3 linked regions of the Homo sapiens genome follow. The protein of the gene in region 3 purifies or fractionates together with the protein of the main gene of each other region. This does not show direct contact. Each region holds a gene or a part of one and is shown on either strand. Other genes may lie near its edges.

Evidence for each region.
Region 1: the proteins of TLE3 (region 3) and RNF6 purify together in Homo sapiens (affinity purification with mass spectrometry; 2 studies listed by BioGRID, with this or other methods). This does not show direct contact.
Region 2: the proteins of TLE3 (region 3) and MYH3 purify together in Homo sapiens (affinity purification with mass spectrometry; 2 studies listed by BioGRID and IntAct, with this or other methods). This does not show direct contact.

Annotation. Positions count from the first base shown.
Region 1 is NC_000013.11:26,212,295-26,219,323, forward strand, and holds the end of RNF6 (E3 ubiquitin-protein ligase RNF6), read right to left. Parts: intron 6,313-7,029; coding exon 6,217-6,312; intron 3,299-6,216; coding exon 1,530-3,298; 3' UTR 481-1,529; downstream 1-480. UniProt on the Homo sapiens protein: E3 ubiquitin-protein ligase mediating 'Lys-48'-linked polyubiquitination of LIMK1 and its subsequent targeting to the proteasome for degradation. Negatively regulates axonal outgrowth through regulation of the LIMK1 turnover.
Region 2 is NC_000017.11:10,640,290-10,647,318, reverse strand, and holds part of MYH3 (myosin-3), read left to right. Parts: intron 1-38; coding exon 39-137; intron 138-1,286; coding exon 1,287-1,390; intron 1,391-1,473; coding exon 1,474-1,612; intron 1,613-2,616; coding exon 2,617-2,735; intron 2,736-2,818; coding exon 2,819-2,968; intron 2,969-4,322; coding exon 4,323-4,493; intron 4,494-4,595; coding exon 4,596-4,902; intron 4,903-5,008; coding exon 5,009-5,079; intron 5,080-5,946; coding exon 5,947-6,034; intron 6,035-6,116; coding exon 6,117-6,234; intron 6,235-6,632; coding exon 6,633-6,756; intron 6,757-6,849; coding exon 6,850-6,986; intron 6,987-7,029. UniProt on the Homo sapiens protein: Muscle contraction.
Region 3 is NC_000015.10:70,047,275-70,052,931, reverse strand, and holds the end of TLE3 (transducin-like enhancer protein 3), read left to right. Parts: intron 1-407; coding exon 408-558; intron 559-1,464; coding exon 1,465-1,541; intron 1,542-2,584; coding exon of another isoform or gene 2,585-2,647; exon of another isoform or gene 2,648-2,721; intron 2,722-2,727; coding exon 2,728-2,835; 3' UTR 2,836-5,142; downstream 5,143-5,657. UniProt on the Homo sapiens protein: Transcriptional corepressor that binds to a number of transcription factors. Inhibits the transcriptional activation mediated by CTNNB1 and TCF family members in Wnt signaling.

The DNA of each region.
Region 1 (7,029 bases), on a different chromosome or scaffold from region 3:
TTCCCAGTCTTAGATCCTCAAACTGACCTACATAAATAATTTACTCCAAACAAAGTCACAACTTTTATGAAAACCTTTTACTCCATGTAAATGCACTCCTTAACATTCCTGGGCATGCATCTAACCTAATGAATTGAACATAGTCACCAGTCAGAAAGGAAAATTAAATGTGGAGATATTTCTAAATCTCACAGAATCTGGCCTAAGTACTGTTCTTGTGATTTTGCCCAAACAGTATCACCACAAGAAAATCCTGTCATATATTAATAAGCAAATATGAAAGTAAGAATAATAATTCACTTTATCAATTGATATTCAGTTTCTAAGAGCAAATATGTCTTTTCCATGAAGCCAGGGACTTTTGTCTGTCGTCTGGGAAATACTCTATCCCATAACACTGCCTGGCATCTAGTATGAAATATTAGTGGAGGGTGAATAAACCACAGTGGAACAACAGAAAAACATAGTTCACATACAGTCTTTGTTTTAATGTTTATTGGTAGAAACAGATCTTCAATGCATACTTTGTGTTTATATAAACTCTACATTCTCTTAAAGGTTTTCGTTTTGTTTTCACTGGAGATTTTTAGCCTCCAAGTGAACTTAACATATTGCCTATGCATCTGATTCTTTATAGACTTTTAGATTTTAAAACTAAATTTGAGAAACCATGCATACTGTATACCTTATTTAATAATCCAAAGAATTGTTTGCACTTTCAAAAAAGTTACAAAAAGGCTGAACACAAGTTAAATAACCTATATGATGTAAATTTTCCATTTCTGAATACTTTTTCAGTATTATATATTGCTTGCTGTCTAATAAGTTAGATTGTCAGAGACGCTTCAGTAAATTATCTCTACTTTAAAATTATATCTGAATCCCCTTTCTCTGAGATGAACTTGCCAATATTAAACATTGTGCCATATGCAGTATTAGCCCAAAAGCTTAAATAAGAACCAAACTTGTAGACTGAATATTTTAACCTTAAAATTATATACCTATATATACACCTATGGTATGCTGCATATTAAATTTAACATTTCAAGTAACATATATATAGCAAACATTCAGCCAAATACTCTTTCATGAAAAGATACTGTCCTTAAAATAAAAAGTTAATGAAAAGCTTATTTAGACACAAATGTCTAGATATAAGTACTAAGCCTATGAAACTTGAAGCTAAAGTCTGCTGTACTATTAAGAAAAAGAAGATTGATTCTTAACCTACTGAATTGTGCAGATACAAAAGTGCTTAGCATGACAAAATTACCAAAATAAAAACATTTTAGAGGTTATTTGGTTCTAGCAATATTAACTATTCTGTATTTCTGGATAATTTAACATTTGTATTTTAAATTTTATATAAATTTCTTTTTAACAAGTTTAAAAAAGCACACGAAAAATAGTTCAAACTATATATAATCTGTTATTTTTCATCCTGGTTAGCTAATCACAAATAACTCAGCAAAACAATGCTTGAACATTCAGTTCTACTAAAAAACAGTATTTGAGTAGATCCCATCACCTTACCCATTGTTTGCTATGTTAGACCCTAAAACAGGCTGCCGACAGATCGGACAAGTGCAATTCTCTGAGAGCCATCGGTCAATACAATGAATGTGAAATTCATGCATGCAAGGTAATTGCCTGAGCTTGTTTCCAGTTACATAGTCACTAATACAAACACTACAGATTTTACCTAGTTCACTATCAATACTGTTATGCTCATAGTGCCTGGTGGAAAGATTGTCAATCTGCTCTTTGGTTAAACCACGTATTCGATCATCATCATCACTTTCATTTAGTAAAAAAAAGTGAGCAAGGCGAAGAATGGGTAGTGTTCCAGTTTCAACTAAATTGTTTGGATTTCGCAACTGCCTGCCACCCCTACTGTCACTGTTTCGAGTATGAGGCTGGGTGGTCTCGTTTTCACCATGCATTTCAGTGCTGTCTCCTTGGGCCTGCCTGTCTTGAGAGGAACCTTCCCTGTGCTGGCTCCTGTTGTTATCTGTACCTAAGTTACTCAGTTCTGAGTGCATGTCTGGTAAATGCTGGCCATTTCTTTGAAGTTCTGACTCAGAATCGGCCTCCATTAGAGAACTCAGTTCTCCAAACCCAGTCATGATCTGCCTTAAAATTGACCGAAGAGCCACTGATGATGGCTCAACAAGCTCATTCTCAGAAATCCTACGAAGAGGAACTGTTATGGTACTAACATAGGTTCGAATACCTGACCGCTCTAAACGAGAAATGGTTCGGCGAAAGCCCCCACTATTGCTTTCAATAGTGACTGTATTTTCTGCTAGCCCTACTCTGGATCGAGTTCTATTTGCAATACTATCCCGATCTCTATTTTCTCCAGGACGGATCCTTCTCACTTGAAGGTCCAGTGTGATTGTTGGATGTCGTCGTACAGCAGTTGAGGATCTGCTGGATTCTTCTCCTTCTTCTACTGTTATTCTTGACACAAGCCTTGAATTAGAGAATGGGGTATATGCAGTACCTCTGCGTTCTCGTTCTCTATCTTGCTCTAAAAAGACTCGAGTTCTACCTCTCCTCCTAACAGATCTTCTAGTGGTTTGCTGTACTGGTCTACTTTCCCTTTGGGAATTATGATAAACAGTGCCACTCTGTCTCTGAATTGGTGAACGGCTTCGACTATTGGAAGTAGATCGTAATCTTATTGGCTCTAATCTTTGGTTTGTATTCCTCACTGTAACATTACTTCTAGCCCCATTTTCCCAAACATGTGCTGCTCCAAACCGTTGCCCCTCCCTTTGCCTGAGTTCACTACCACCTGATTGGTTTGTGTGACTACTGAAATTAGTGCGTGAAGCGTTAGCTCGAGGAATGCCAGCTGCTCCCCCAATTCCATTTCTTAACCTTCCCAATGTTGAGAAAGATCCTTCAGCTGGATTTTGCCCCCTTGAAGCAAGCCTAGTCCTTGGAATGTTGGAACTACTACCATTGAAATTCACTGAGGTTTGGCTTCTTGTTCGCCTAGCCACAGGACTAGTTGACCTTTGTTGCCTATTTGCAGTATGATCTCTGTTACTATCTGAAAGTGGAATGTCTGTATAATCTTCTCCATGAATTTCAAATCCTCTATTTTCATGATTTACGTGGATTTCCAAACTAAACCGAAACTCTCCATTGTTCGGGTTTGTTCGACTCACAGCTCTCCAAGTTTGGTTCCCATTTTGTCCACTTCGAGTTGCATTTCCTGTGCGCCGAAAGGTGTTCAACCATTCTAGAAGAGAATCTTCATGTGAACTTTCTCTAGGGACTTCTGAGTCTAGAAAGCAAAGCAAATCAACTTAAGATCAATTCCTAAGACACACCTTACAGCTTTATTGAAAACTTGTAAGAAAAACAAAGTTTGTAATAAATTAAAGAACATCTGTGGATTTTAATGAATGAAAGATGGCAAAAAGACAACTTTCTAAAAGAAAAGTATATCTACTATAAGCATATTATAAAAATTAAATTACTATTTACATAGTTACAAAGCTTTAAATACTATTTATGCAACGCTATGGAGAAATCCTCATTCTTACTTTCTATCTGCCCATTACTAGCAAAATACTAAGGCAAATGAGAAACATGTCCACTACCAAAAGTTTACATTTAAATTGCTTTATCAATATAGTAATATCAATAAAATACAAAGACAAACTTTATGTAAAATTTGTCCTGTATTTGTGGAATCTTTCTGGAAAAGCCAACTCAGTCATTTTTGCAACTAGGTATTTCTGTAATCTTAGAAATTTTTCCTATTTCTCAGGTGCTGCCAAAAATGTACACATCAAGAAATGTGAGTTTCTGAATATAACATTAAAACCACATTACTGTATTTGTCTTTGTGTGAAGCTGAGAAACCAGGCAAGTTACTTAAGGTCTCTATGGCTGATCCTTGTCTATAAACTGGAGTTAATAATAGAATCAATCTCATAGGGTTATCCTGAGGATAAAATAAGACGCTATATATAACATAATTAGCATAATATCTGGCACATAAAAAGCCACCCCATAAATGTTAGCTGTTATACATAATAAAATACATTTTCTATTCATTTAGAACGTAAGCTCCAGGAAAACAAAGATTTTTGTAGTTTTAGTCACTGTTACATCTCCAGCCTCTACAGCAGTATCTAGTATAAATCAGACTTTCAATTAATATTGCTCAATTAATCAATTTAGAAATGTGTCACCCATAAACTTTTTTGACTAAGATACTGCCACTGTGCCAAGCTTAAATTTTCCATTTATAACCAGTAGATATTATATAAAGTACAAAACTTAATAAAAAGCATCAACACATTAACTACACAAACTTCAACTTTAAAGTTTGTTCTACTCAAAAATAGCTATTATAGGCCGGGCGCGGTGGCTCACACCTGTAATCCCAGCACTTTGGGAGGCCAAGGCAGGCAGATCATGAAGTCAGGAGTTCGAGACCAGCCTGACTGACATGGTAAAAACCTGTCTCTCCTAAAAATACAAAGAAATTAGCCAGGCATGGTGGCGTGCGCCTGTAATCCCAGCTACTCAGGAGGCTGAGGCAGGAGAATTGCTTGAACCCGGGAGGCAGAGGTTGCAGTGAGCCAAGATTGTGCCACTGTACTACAGCCTGGGTGACAGAACAGGACTCTGTCTCAAAAAATAAATAAACAAATAAATAAAATAGCTATTATATGACATCATTCTGATTTCATTTCATTCCTGCAATCTCTCTCGTAAGACTTTTTTAAATGCTGAAGTTGAAGCTATTAATCAGCTGTTGATGCCAATAAAATAAACAGCAACTGAGCCATATTCCAGAGATGATGAGCTATTTTATATTTGATGAGTACATTTTCCACTGAAACATATTCAAAAGATCAGTATTAATTATTGCATCTATATAGTACAACTTACATATCTAAACACAAATAATAAAATGTGTTAATGTCCACTTCCCATTTGTTTGGAAAAAGAATGAGTAAAAGGCAGGTGAACATGAATTATTTTAAATGCTACTTCCTTCTTTGATTAACATTTGATTAAGTGTAGTGATGATGGTGCATGTGAAAGAGTTTGCCAAGTACCTACTCAAAGCTACCCTACTCTTCTTCCATTGTAAAAGCATCGGAAATTGGCTCGTGGACAGCCTGGCAGTTAGGTGTGACCATGAGACTAAGTTCTCATGAATGGAATGGGAGAGTAAGCGATACATCCTACTCTCACGCTAGTGCGTGGACCTCCTTCCTACCAGCTAGAACCTAGATATGGTTGCGACTTACCTTGATCATACAAATGGTACCCTGGAGCAGTGATGCCCCATAAATCTTTCTGAAGTAATGAGTATGTTCTGTATTTGTGCTGTCCAATACAGAAGCCACTAGCCAAATGTGACTATTAAGCACCTGAATGTGGCTAGTATGAATGAGCTAAATTTTAAATTTAATTTGATTTTAATTAATTTCCATTTAAATAGTCACATGTGGCTAGCAGCTACTGTACTGAACAGCACAGTTGTAGAATCATTCTGTTAGCTGAGTGGGTTCCAAGAGGATTTCCTTCCCTGGACTGTTAACGTAAGTAAGAAACTTCTAGCTTATTGAGCCATTGCATTTTGGGGTTTTTACATAGACTTCATGGTAACTAATACAATGATTTTGATATAATATGTGAAACTACTAATAAATACCTCTGAGGAGGGAAGTAGAACTGGTTAAGAGGAACACAAAAGTGGCTTTTCCTTTTAACTCTACATACTTCATTTAGTTTGAAGTTCTTTTATAGTACTTTCCTTATAAGAACTTTTTATATGTAAACCATCAAACAGAACAAAGAAACAAAAACAGGTTTCCTAACTCAGTCTTTCTACACGGTTCTGTATATAAATTTTTAGAAGCTAAGTAATATCACTTTAGAAAAAGTAATGTGTACATTCCAAGATTAAAAAGAAGCATGCTGGGAATTAACTTAATTGTATATTATTACATAAAGCTCTCTGAAGGCAATCTGTGTGTTTAAGACATCTTTGCATTCATTCCTCTGTCCTATACTGCTTAACCATACTGCTTTACTACTCATATATATATTATCTGAATGAGTATCACATTAAAACTGGAAAAAATTGAAGACAAACATACTATACAAGGTCTAAGAATTTCATTTCTGCAAGTGCTCCAATCAAGCCTGTTCCTTATGGAAAGGACTCCATAGTACCTCTGTAATTCGTTCCATCTCTCAAGTCAGGCTGAGATGCTAGTTGTTCCTTGACGCCATCTAACCGCTGTTGCAGTTCTTCTGATGTTATTTCTCCTAAAACAATGAAAAACTGCTCATTTAAGAATTCTGAATTAAGTTTTATGAGACCTCATGAAGGGTAAGACTAATCTTTAGTAACCTATAGAAGACAAATGTCTTATTACTTTCATATGTTCTGTAAATTGAAGACAGTTAAAAATATTCAACTGGTACAAATGTGCATCAATTCGGTTGTGCTTCATTTATTAATCTTTTATTAAAAATTATTAAAATAAGATTTAATTTGAATAGTTGGTAAAGTGCTGCCAGTTGATACACTTAGGAATCTATAAGCTATAACTGTGGATTTTTGTCAGTTAAAAAGAAATTAAGGGAGCATTTATAGAGAAAACTTCAAATATTTACTTGAATTTTATCCCAAATACTTCATTATATGGGTCATCAATATACAAACACACAATATATAAACATACAAATTTCCATTAGTTCATTTGTAAAAACTTTATGGAACACATTGGGCTTTGGGGGGAGCTATTAATTCAGCTGAATAAATAAATTATAATACCCCAAATGAGTTCAAATTGGGTTTTAAGTCATATTTTATTTGTATAAAAATTACAAATAGGACCATATATGTAAATACTTAACACCATTATGTACATTAACCTGTTTCTTAGTTTGGCATTTGTATAATAGTGCTCCATGTCCCCTATTTTCACCTTATAAAATACAGAAGCCAGTGATTTTCTACTTTATTATACTAAAAAGTTC
Region 2 (7,029 bases), on a different chromosome or scaffold from region 3:
GGAACAGTTTGAAAGAGAGTCCTGTGTTTGTGTTCCAGATCTTCTGGAAAAATCAAGAGTCACTTTCCAGCTGAAGGCTGAAAGAAGCTACCACATCTTCTACCAGATTCTTTCTAACAAGAAGCCTGAGCTCATAGGTGAGGAAGTCACCAGTGGGGCTGGTCTTTTAGGTAGTTTGACTCTGATCACTAGACCAAGGAGAGTTGTATCTACGTAGAGTGACTCTACAGTCAACAGGGAAAGTTTATTTTATTTTATTTATTTATTTTGAGATAGGGTCTCACTCTGATGCCCAGGCTGGGGTGCAGTGGCACAAGCACAGCTCACTTGTAGTCTTGACCTTTCTGGGTTCAAGTAATCCTCCAGCCCCAGCCTCCCGAGTGGCTGCGACTACAGGTGCATGCCCCCACACCAGGCTACCTTTTGTGTTTTTTGTAGAGATGAGGTTTCACCATGTTGCCCAGGTTGGTCTTGAACTCCTGGGCTCAAGCAATTTGCCCGACTCGGCCTCCCACAGTGCTGGGATTATAGGTGTGAGCCACTGCACTTTGCCAGGAAAAGCTTATTTTAGAAATGGGATGTGGCTATCTGGGCAGTGACATGCCAATTTGAAAACCTAATCAAATGGAGGGCAACAAGATTAGACCACTCCTGACCAGCTCTGGTTTATAAAAACCTTCTGAGCAACTGAACACCTAACTGTCCTTTGGCGCCCCCTTGTGTTCTGGCACAGAAACAACCTATGGCCAAATGCGACGCCAAAGCAAACAGAATAATCAAGCCCACGGAGGCACTGCACACTGCCCCTTGTCTGCCCCTCACAGAGGTCTCCATGCACACTGCTTCTTTGCTCTTTGGCTGTATTTGCTCAGCCTTCTGGTCTCCAGCTTGGAAACAGGCTGCTGCTTTTCAACAGATTTTAGAAAAGGCTATGATTATACCAAACCACCTGGGTTGGCTCTCGTCCTGACCCGCACTCAGCCAGTTTTCCCTATTAACTTCTCCCAGCCGACACTGATATGCACCATTAGCGTGCAAGGCAAGGGAATTTAAAGGTTCTCTCTAGGGTCCTTCATCTCCATTGTGTGGGAGACTGAAAAGTCTTCCCTGGACTATATTTTCCATGACAGCCTGAGTATTGTGGAACTGTCTAAAAGATTTTTAATTCTAAGTTCAATTTAGGATCCAGCGGTAAAAGTTCCAGCCCAGGGTGCAGGAGCTCAAGTCCACTGGGTGGGTTTTTTCTTTGCATCTGCATAACCTCCTGGAACTATTTGTCATTTCAGAGCTGCTGCTTATTACGACCAACCCTTACGACTACCCGTTCATTAGCCAGGGGGAGATCCTGGTGGCCAGCATAGATGATGCAGAGGAGCTGCTGGCTACAGACGTAAGTGGAACCAACAGAAGGGGTGGGTGTTCCTCCTCCATCACTGGGGCCAACTGACTGACGTGCTGCCCTTTCCATGCCAGAGCGCCATTGACATCCTGGGCTTCACCCCAGAAGAGAAATCTGGGCTCTACAAGCTGACGGGAGCCGTGATGCACTACGGGAACATGAAGTTCAAGCAGAAGCAGCGAGAGGAGCAGGCCGAGCCGGATGGCACAGAAGGTACAAAATCAGTGTGACAGCAAACCAGAGCGGGTGGCTGATCTGCTGAGGTCACTTGGTACTGCTTTTGAAAGCAATTAATCCAGCCAGGCACAGTGGCTCACACCTGTAATCCCAGCACTTTGGGAGGCTGAGGGGGCCAGATCACCTGAGGTCAGGAGTTCGAGACCAGCATGGCCAACATGGTGAAACCCCATCTCTACTAAAAAAAATTAGCTGGGCATGGTGGAGCATGCCTATAATCCCAGCTACTCAGGAGGCTGAGGCACGAGAGTCAGACAGAGTTTTGCTCTGTCATCCAGGCTAGAGTGCAGTGGCATGATCTCAGCTCACTGCAACCTCTGCTGCCTGGGTTCAAGTGATTCTCCTGCCTCAGCCTCCCGAGTAGCTGGGATTACAGGCACACACCACCGCGCCTGGCTAACTTTTTTGTATTTTTAGTAGAAACGGGGTTTCACCATGTTGGCCAGGCTCAAACTCCTGACCTCAAATGATTCGCCTGCCTTGGCATCCCAAAGTGCTGTGATTACGGGTGTGAGCCACTGTGCCCTGCCGGCATGAGAGTTTCTTGAACCCAGGAGGCAGAGGTTGCAGTGCACTGAGATCGTGCCACTGCACTCCAGCCTGGGCAACACAGTAAGACTGTCTCAAAAAAAAAAAAATGGATGGAAGCGATTAATCCTTCCATCTGGAGAAGTGAATGACCCTTTCTGGGCCTCCGATGCCCATAGCTATTGTTACCACTCGCTTTTCCTGAATCACTCGAATAGTCTTGTTTCAGATGCAGTGAGGGATGACCAGGGCTTTCTGAGACCCAGCCCTGGCTTTTCATAAAGTCCATTATATTCTCTGAGTGACTTAGCTTCCATTGGCCATGTATATGCAGTTTAGCCACAGGGAATGCACAATGTACCAAGATGAACTTAACCAACCTTTGAAACTTCTGGATGATTTTCAAAGCAGCTCTTCTACTTTTCTAAGCACTGTCCTTGTTTTCTTGCCAGTGGCTGACAAAACAGCCTATCTGATGGGCCTGAACTCTTCGGACCTCCTAAAAGCTTTGTGCTTTCCTAGAGTGAAAGTTGGGAATGAGTACGTTACCAAAGGTCAAACTGTGGATCAGGTAACAGCTTCAAGGCCGGGAAAGGGTGCAGGACCCTGCTGGCCACTTCCTTCATATCCAGTAGCTGATCTTTCCCCTGATAGGTTCACCATGCTGTGAATGCTCTTTCAAAATCAGTTTATGAAAAGTTGTTCTTGTGGATGGTCACTCGCATTAACCAGCAACTGGATACGAAGCTTCCAAGACAACACTTCATTGGTGTTTTGGACATTGCAGGCTTTGAAATCTTTGAGGTTTGTGTTACTTATATTCATATTTTCATATGGCTTCATATGAGGGAAATTGGTTTCATGATCCTAAAGGGAAGATAGCAAGATGGCGGCTGTCTTAGTTTCCTGTAAGAAACTAGATGGAGAGTGGATGGAATAGAGGAGCGGTACTTATTGGAAGGGTTTGTATTAGGGTTTTTTGTTTGTTTTTTTTTTTTGAGACTGAGTTTCACCCTGTCACTCAGGCCAGAATGCAGTGGCGCCATCTCGGCTCACTGCAACCTCTTCCTGAGTTCAAGTGAACCTCCTGCCTCAGCCTCCTGAATAGCTGGGATTACAGGCGTGTGCCACCATGCCTGGCTAATTTTTGTATTTTTAGTAGAGATGGGGTTTCACCATGTTGGCTAGGCTGGTCTCGAACTCCTGACCTCAAGTGATCCATCCGCCTCGGCCTCCGAAAGTGTTGGGATTACAGGCATGAGCCACCGCACCTGGCTGGGTTTGTATTATTTTAAAAGAGGAGAAGATGTCTATCAAGTGGAATTTTAAAGGACATTTTCAAATGGATAAAAGAAAAAAAATTAAATGCAATCACTGATTTAGGGACTGCCATCAAATAGATACAGAGAATTTGATAAGTTAATCACGCACTATTTTCTATAAATATCCCACTGGTTCTGTGTTAGACCGTGCATAGCCGCGGCTGGGCATGGTGCCTCATGCCTGTAATCCCAGCACTTTGGGAGGCTGAGGCAGGCAGATCGCAAGGTCAAGAGATCAAGACCATCCTGGCCAACATGGTGAAACCCCGTCTCTACTAAAAATACAAAAATTAGATGGGTGTGGTGGCGTGCGCCTGTAGTTCCAGCCACTCTGGAGGCTGAGGCAGGAGAATCATTTGAACCTGGGAGGCGGAGGTTGCAGTGAGCCGAGATGGTGCCATTGCACTCCAGCCTGGTGACAGAGCAAGACTCCGTCTCAAAAAAAAAAGAAAAAAAAAAGTGCATAGCCACTCATCAAAGTGTATATTTAGGTTTCCCAGGTACAAGACATACAGGTGAAAAAAACAGATGAGCTTGTAGTCTAGTAGAGAAGAAATAGAAGTCTATATGGCACATTGAAGAGTAACTACAAAATAAAGTACACAAGAGATGCCCAGACCTTGGGAACTCAGGAAAGGGAGAAACACCTTCTAATTGGAAGTTTACAGAAGACGCCAAGGAGGAGATGCGGTCTGAGGCAGGCCTTGAAGATTGTGATTGTATTTGAAAGCATTAATGTGTTTGACAGGAACCTGGGGCAATGAGGAGGAATGTTGACAGTCTTTGATTCTGAAAGAAGTCTAACTTTTCACATGAATGTTGTATTTTTTTATTAGTATAACAGCCTGGAGCAGCTGTGCATCAACTTCACCAATGAGAAACTGCAACAGTTTTTCAACCACCACATGTTCGTGCTGGAGCAGGAGGAGTACAAGAAGGAAGGCATCGAGTGGACGTTCATTGACTTCGGGATGGACCTGGCTGCCTGCATCGAGCTCATCGAGAAGGTATCCAGTTCCATCCCCACCGTAAGCTCTTCTCATAGACTCTTCTGCTCATTACTGCAGCTCATATTTACCTCTCTGCACTTTGCCTTGCCTTCAATCCAGCCTATGGGCATCTTCTCCATCCTGGAAGAGGAGTGCATGTTCCCCAAGGCAACAGACACCTCCTTCAAGAACAAGCTGTATGACCAGCATCTTGGAAAGTCCAACAACTTCCAGAAGCCCAAGGTGGTCAAAGGCAGGGCCGAGGCTCACTTCTCACTGATCCACTATGCGGGCACCGTGGACTACAGTGTCTCAGGTTGGCTGGAGAAGAACAAGGACCCTCTGAACGAGACTGTGGTTGGGCTGTACCAGAAGTCTTCCAACAGGCTCCTGGCACACCTCTATGCCACGTTTGCCACGGCGGATGGTAAGAGGAGTGCTTTGTGTCCATGTGATTTCCCTCCATTTGTTCCACAGTAACAAAAAACCTTTTAGATTCACCTACAGCACGTGCCCTCCCTTATTGCTTTCAGCTGACAGTGGAAAGAAGAAAGTTGCCAAGAAGAAGGGTTCTTCCTTCCAAACTGTCTCTGCCCTTTTCAGGGTAAGAAAAATACAAGTTTATTTGCTTATAATTGATTTAAGTGACATCTAAATGAGCAATGCTGAGATTCTAAGCTTGATTTATTTGAGAGTAGTAGTGTTGTCTTAATCTGATTACTGTCACTGAGGTGAAGTGACAGATGATAAAATATAATAAATACGGTCTAACCAATGTGCGATGAGAGTATCACTATTATCTTATACCAAAGATAGCTGAGTTGGCTTGTCCGAGTTTCCAGCATAAACTCTCCAATTTTCCTAAAGGACACCAGCAATAGACCTCACGCTCCCAGTGGATCCATCACCTGAGTTGATTTTAGAAAGCATTTTGTACTTGGCGAGCCTCTGGCTCACTGGGAGACAAAAGACAATTGTATCAGTTACTAGCCTACACCTCCAGCCATAGGACCATTGAAAGCCTGAGTTAGGCCGGGCACAGTGGCTCACTCCTGTAATCCCAGCACTTTGGGAGGCCGAGGTGGGCAGATCACAAGGTCAGAAGATCGAGACCATCCTGGCTAACACAGTAAAACCCCGTCTCCATTAAACATATGAAAAATTAGCCAGGTGTGGTGGCATATGCCTGTAGTCCCAGCTACTCAGGAGGCTGAGGCAGGAGAATTGCTTGAACCTAGGAGGAGGAGGTTGCAGTGAGCCAAGATTGAGCCACTGCATTCCAGCATGGGTGACAGAGCGAGACTCCGTCTCAAAAAAAAAAAAAAAAAAAAAAAAGACAGAGTTAAATCATTTCACTATACTTTAGAACTTATGATAAATTTTAAACATAGATCTTATTTCATTACAATGGATCTCTGTCTTCATAAAAACCTACAGTAGGATGGCAAATGTCATTTTTTTTTTCTCTTAGGAAAACCTGAACAAGCTGATGTCAAATTTAAGAACTACTCACCCTCATTTTGTGCGTTGTATAATTCCCAATGAAACCAAAACTCCAGGTGAGACACCTGCTGGCTCGCTAGGTGGTGCTCAGTTTTTAAGAAATTCTGTGTAAGGCTGATATCTCGCTTCTGTTCCCAGGGGCTATGGAACACAGCCTTGTTCTGCACCAGCTGCGGTGTAACGGTGTCCTGGAGGGCATCCGCATCTGCAGGAAAGGGTTCCCAAACAGGATTCTCTATGGCGATTTTAAACAAAGGTGTGTAATAAACATGTTCTATATGCTTGGGGATGAGATGTACGAACACTGGAATTTGAGAGGGAGAAAGATTCGTATGAAAAGACCTATTTCGAAAGAACAGATATGGACCTCCATGTAAACTGAACAATCTACCATTTGGCCAAGTTATATATATTTGTTTCTTCCATGTTTTTCTCTGGAATTTATCTGATATACAAAATGGCAGGAAAAGCTCTGACTGAAGAGTCAAGAGATCTAGATTCTAGACTGCTCTCTAGCAATGTGACTCCGAGCTAGTTCCCTCATCTCCTGGGACCTTGGCCTTCTGCCTATAGGAAGAGAGGCCTGAACTACATGTTCTCCAAGGTTTGTGTCTTTGCCAACAGTCTGTGATGATTTCCATGTCTACAATGCAGATACCGAGTGCTGAATGCCAGTGCAATCCCTGAGGGACAATTCATTGACAGCAAGAAAGCCTGTGAAAAGCTTCTGGCATCCATTGATATTGACCACACTCAGTACAAATTTGGACATACCAAGGTAATGCATCAGTTCTGACAGATGCTGGCCTTTTCGTCCTCTTGACACAGCTTCTCTAGGAAACTGACTCATGTCACCCTTCTGCCCCATAAGGTGTTCTTCAAGGCTGGCTTGCTGGGAACCCTGGAAGAGATGCGGGATGACCGCCTGGCCAAACTAATCACCCGGACACAAGCTGTGTGCAGAGGGTTCCTCATGCGTGTGGAATTCCAGAAGATGGTGCAGAGGAGGTCCAGCAGGGTCTTTGTTCAGACATGAGCTCTTTGGGGAAGG
Region 3 (5,657 bases):
CTCCTAGGTCTGATGTGGGCACCTGAAATGATCCCTCTAAAAGGCGTAGCCATAAACCCGACTCACAGAAAGCATTCAGTAAATGCCAGGGATTATTATTTCTTATTTGCATTCCTCACTTTAATATTTTAATCTTAAATTTTTAATATTTTAGTTTTTTTTTTTTAACTCACTTTTTTCTTAAGGAAAGATGAAAGTCTCAGAGACAGAGTAACTGAATGCAAAATGTCTGTGCTTTCTCACCTATAAAATGGGGATGGAAAATGACCTCCCATACTCCTGGGTTATTGGGTGGGTGGGGAGGGACCCTGAGCCTCAGAGGACCTGAGCAGCACCTTTGGGAGCCGCCCTCCTCTTGAGGGCAGAGAATGCTGAGCTCAGTCCATCTGCCCTCCCACCACCTGCAGATCTTCTCGCTGGGCTACTGCCCCACTGGGGAGTGGCTGGCTGTGGGCATGGAGAGCAGCAACGTGGAGGTGCTGCACCACACCAAGCCTGACAAGTACCAGCTGCACCTGCACGAGAGCTGCGTGCTCTCCCTCAAGTTCGCCTACTGCGGTGAGCCTTGGATGGGCCCAGGCCTGATGGAGTGGGGTGGGGAACCCAGGGCAGCCTGGCCCAACAGGACAGAAGAGGGGCCCAAAGCTTATAGAATAAGCTAGGCCCTGGAACCAGGCCTCCTGACCCCTGAGCTGGTGCCCCTTCAACACCCTTAAGTGATCTTGTTCCACATCCTTGTTTCTCGGATGCAGATGTCACCATGAGTTATTGAACTCTCAGGACACTAGGCCAGAGCCAGTTCTTGCAGGCTTGGGGCAAAGGAACAGGACAGTAGCAGTGCAGGCAGTTCCTCTCCATGGTTACAACCACTTGCTTTGGCATCTGAGAGCCTTGGATGGGAATGTCTGCTCCTCCACTGACAAGCTGTGCAGTCTTGAACATCTCACCCTCTCTGAACTCTAGTGGATTTTTCTCTCTGGTCGGGAATAGCATGGTGCTCATGGCTTTCAGGGAGCATAAGGGCTTTAACACTTGTAGAGCCCTGGCCGAGTTCCTGCTTGGAGGAAGGTCGCCCACTGACTGCTGTCTTCAGCCAGGTCTCCAGACTCCCAGGGCTTGGATATTTTCAGTATTTCCTGTTGCCTTCCAGTAGTAGAATTTAGAAAGGCCAGTCAACCTTAGTGGCTTTAACAAGAATCTTTTGAGGCAGCGTTATCACTGCAATGAACTTCAAATCCTACCTTTTCCCATCCTAGCCCCGCCCAGCCCTCCCCCTGGATTTCAGAGAAAGGCCTTCTCCAGGTGTCCGCATGTCCCATTTGCAAAATGCCTCTCGAAATTGGAGAGTTATACTAGTTAGCAGTTCTCACTGCTTTTCTATGGCAGCTGGCCATGTCTAGGGCAGGTCTTGCTTTAGAGGGCAGTGAGCTACAACCTGATCATGCCTTTGCCTCCCACCTGCAGGCAAGTGGTTCGTGAGCACTGGGAAAGATAACCTTCTCAACGCCTGGAGGACGCCTTATGGAGCCAGCATATTCCAGGTACTGCCCACCGTCTGAGTCCTCCTCTGGGTTCTACCCAGAGTTGAAACTTGGTGATGGTGATGGGAGTGAGGATAGCAGCAGGAAGAACAGGAGGAGCCTGGAGCCAGGATCAGACCTGCCCTGGTCCCCTCCCCACCCCTACCTGATAGGGGAGCAAGATTGGGTTCTCCCAAGGACCTGGGGACTTCAGCAGGACACACAATCTGCTACTGATGGCTTCTGACCCCCGAGGGCAAGGGCTTCTAAGCCGGGGCGCTTGTCGGATTTGGAGAGTGAGGAATAGCATAAGTGTTTTTGCTCTGGGCTGGATGCTGAGCACCTGCGGGAGGTGCGCTGGGCACCTGGGCACCCGGCAGCCTTGCCCAGAGCAGTGTTGCCTCCTCAAGTGAGTGAGTGTTTCCACCTGCATTCAGCACCAGCAGGGACATGGACAGGAAAGAGAGGAGGAAAGGAAGAGGCTTTTTATAATCTACCAGGATCTGGGGCCTGCCATACTGCACTGATTGGCACACACACGTGTGCACACACACACGTGCACTCTTTCCCATACACGATCAAACTCACACTCATTTACTCACGCACACTTGGTCTCCCCCACACACTTTCTTCCTCTCTCTCTCTTGCGCTTCCACACACACACTTGCATTCTCTCTCACTCCCTCAGCCAACATGCCGCTTTCTGGACCCAGGCTGAAATGTCTGGTGTGCAGCGTGTCAAACCTCATTGTTAGGGTCTCTAGTTACAGCACATGCTTCAAACATCAGGTGGCAATCCTTTTCCTAACTCATCAGGCTGTGGGCCTGAGCTGCTGACGCCAGCTCCTAGCTTGGAAATGCTTCTTCCTATTTGTAAACTCGGAGGAGAAGCTCTTGCTAAAGCGTCCTGTTCTGATCATTATGACTTACTGTAAAGATCACGTGGGAGACTGTTACTGAGCTTTTCCTTATGGAAAAGCAGGTGGGAGGGGAGCTCTACCTGAAAATGCTTCATGGGTGCTTTAAAGCCTCCCCCACCTCCTCTTCACCGCACTGTGCTCCAGGTCGGAGCATCAGAGAGGGGCAGAGGAGGGCAATTGTTGCCGAGAGAACCGAGATGGTGTTGAGCACTGGAAAATGAATTCCTGTCTTTTTTCTCCCTGCACCCCACGCCTTCCTGCTGCTTCTCCTCGTCTTCCTCCTCCAGTCTAAAGAATCCTCGTCTGTCTTGAGTTGTGACATTTCAGCGGATGACAAATACATTGTAACAGGCTCTGGTGACAAGAAGGCCACAGTTTATGAGGTCATCTACTAAACAAGAACTCCAGCAGGGCTGTCAAACTCTGGGAGAAACCGACTCGGCTCTGACAGGGAGACCCCCAGGCGAGGGGCCCCGAGGATGGCGGAGGATGGGCCGCAGGCAGCCGAGCGTTCAGGGCTGCGCTCCGGCCGGCTGAGAGGGCACGTGCCCCGTCACAGTCTGGACTCCTGGGCCTGGATTGATGTGTCTCACAGACTCGGAAGGGTTCTGCTCCTCCTCCTCCCCCTGAACAATGCTGGCAGTTGCTACAAATAGATTTATTGGAGGCTTATGGCTCCGGTTCCCCCACAGACCCGCTCATGAGTCTCTGTTTGTTCTTCCCTTTTCTTTTGCCCTGTCCCTCACCTTGGGTCGGGGGTGCTGGAGTGGACCACAATGTTGTGCTGGGGGATGGGGGGGTCTCTCTTTGCCGATTGTGCAGTGCACAAGATTTGTGAAAAATGTAAATAACAGACTCCTATTGCGGACTGATCAGTGGGAGAGGAGGCCCCTTCCCACCGGAAACTCTGAGTGTGTATTTCGCCTGCTGTATTTGTAATCCACTCGTGGTGGTGGCTTTTTTTTTTTTTTTTTTTTAAATAAACAGATGCTCTCACCTGGGAAGAGGAGACAGGGAGGGGAACCAATTGAAGAAAGAGGAGAAAAGTCTTAGAGTGTGGAAAAGGCAACCAGGTTGGCCGTAAGGTGCCTGCTGGAATGCGTGTGCCTCCACACGGGTCTGGGCATCCGGACTGATAACCAGCCGGCCAGACTGAGGGATGGAAGGCACTGAGATGGGGGCCCGTCCAGGCGGACACCCGCAGAAATGGAGCTTTCTGTGGTCTCTTGCACTCTGGCTGCCTCTTGCCCTCTCTGTGTCTCTCTTTCTTGGTCTCTCCCTCTCTCCTCCTCAGCCTGGTCTTTCTCTTTGGTGCACACTTAGTTATTGTTGTGAGCAATGGAAGTTCAAAGGAACTCCCTCTCCAGCTCTTCTGAATCTTGGGACACAGCCTAAAAAGGACAAAAAGTTAGAAGACAGCATAGCAACTCAGCTCAGGGAGCTACCAGAGAAAAATAGCAACTGATGTGGGTGCTTTTTTTTTTTTTTTAATTTGAATAAAAAGAATTAGAAGTGATGTCCTTTTATAAAATGCCTTCTCCCCCTTCCCGCCTACAGTCTCTTCCTCTCCCCTTAGAGGGGGGAAAGTGTATAAACCTACAGGGTTGTGAGTCTGAAAAGAGGATCCCCCTCACCCCCACCCTGGGCAGAGCAGTGGGGGTTGGGGGGTGGGAGAGGGGGACACAGATCCTGGCACACTGTGGATATTTCTTGCAGATTGCAGTCTCTTGTGGCCCAAACAGGTTAGGTAGACTATCGCCTCTGGCAGGTGCCACCTTTTGGTACCAACATGTTCTGAGGTGTTAGGATTTGGGTTGGGTTTTTTTTGTTTGTTTTTTTTTTCCTTTTGGTCTTTTTTTTTTTCTCCTTTTAAAGAAAAGCTAAAGGCCGCTGTGAGTCCTGGTGGCAGGCTCTCCATGGATGTAGCATATCGAAGATAATTTTTATACTGCATTTTTATGGATTATTTTGTAATGTGTGATTCCGTCTGCTGAGGAGGTGGGAGGGGCTCCAGGGAAAGCCACCCACCTTCAGTGAGGTTGCTCCCCAGCTGAGCGCACCGGGCATGGGATGTGGAGGCTGGCGACACACCCTGTGCCTCTCCAAGGCTGGGCGCGTGGGGCGTCCAGAGTCTCTCTGGGTCTCAGATGTCCATCTGCCACCTCTTGTTAAGGCTCTAGCCAGAAGGGAGGGTGAGGGTAGAAGAAAGTTATTCCCGAAGAAAAAAAGAATGAAAAGTCATTGTACTGAACTGTTTTTATATTTTTAAAAGTTACTATTTAAAGGTTGGTTTGATTGTTGCGTCTTAATTGCCTCTCCCCCCAGTTTGCCAGTCCCGCCCCCCGCCCCCCGGGAAAACAGCCAGGCCACTGTTGCTGTCACATTCTGGAGCCTGGGCCAGGGCCATTTCCCATCGATGTGAGCTCTTCTCATCTCACAGCATTCCCTGCGCTGCTTCCACCCCCTTCTCCCCTTCCAGATACCCAGCATCGCAGCAGGGATTTCACAATCCCATACTGTGTCGCCTCCCATCCAAGCGCCAGGGAGGGTGGGGGGTAGGAGCTAAGACTTCCTCTGGACAGATGGGCAGGGCAGAGTTCACTGAGGTGAAGGAAGACCACAGGTTAACACCAAAGTATTGTACAGCTGTCAATGCAAAACTTTTTTGGAAAAAAATTAAACGTAATGAACTTGAAGCGAAACTGCAAAGTGTCTGTGAACATCTGGACCTTGGAAACCTGCACAATTTTATTTTAAGCTTAACACGTTTAGGTGGGACGAGGAGATCTTCAATCTCTAGGTCACAAAGGTGTGTTTTTGGATGATACAGAAGGAAGCATTTGCAGAAGAGGCAGACCCAGAAATGCAGGTCATTGTCCCCAGGGAGGGAGTCGGGGGGCTGGGCGGGAAGAGGAGAATGCTGGTGCCCATTCCCGGGGCGGTCCCCAGGCTCTTGGATTTCATGCACCCATTAGCAAAAGCTCTCAGGGCACTGGAGATTAACATGGTTTCCAACTCCTTATTTTGTCAAAGTCATTCTCAGCACAAACAATTGCCTGCTGTCATTTCATACAAGAAAGGGAATCTCACATTTAAAAAAAAAAAGAGGAACGACAGTCTCAGCATAAAGCACAGTCTTTATGACTAGAAGGGACAACTGGCCTCTCTCCACACAGAGGGGTCATTTAGCTGGAGAGGGAGGTCCTCTCAGGCTTAT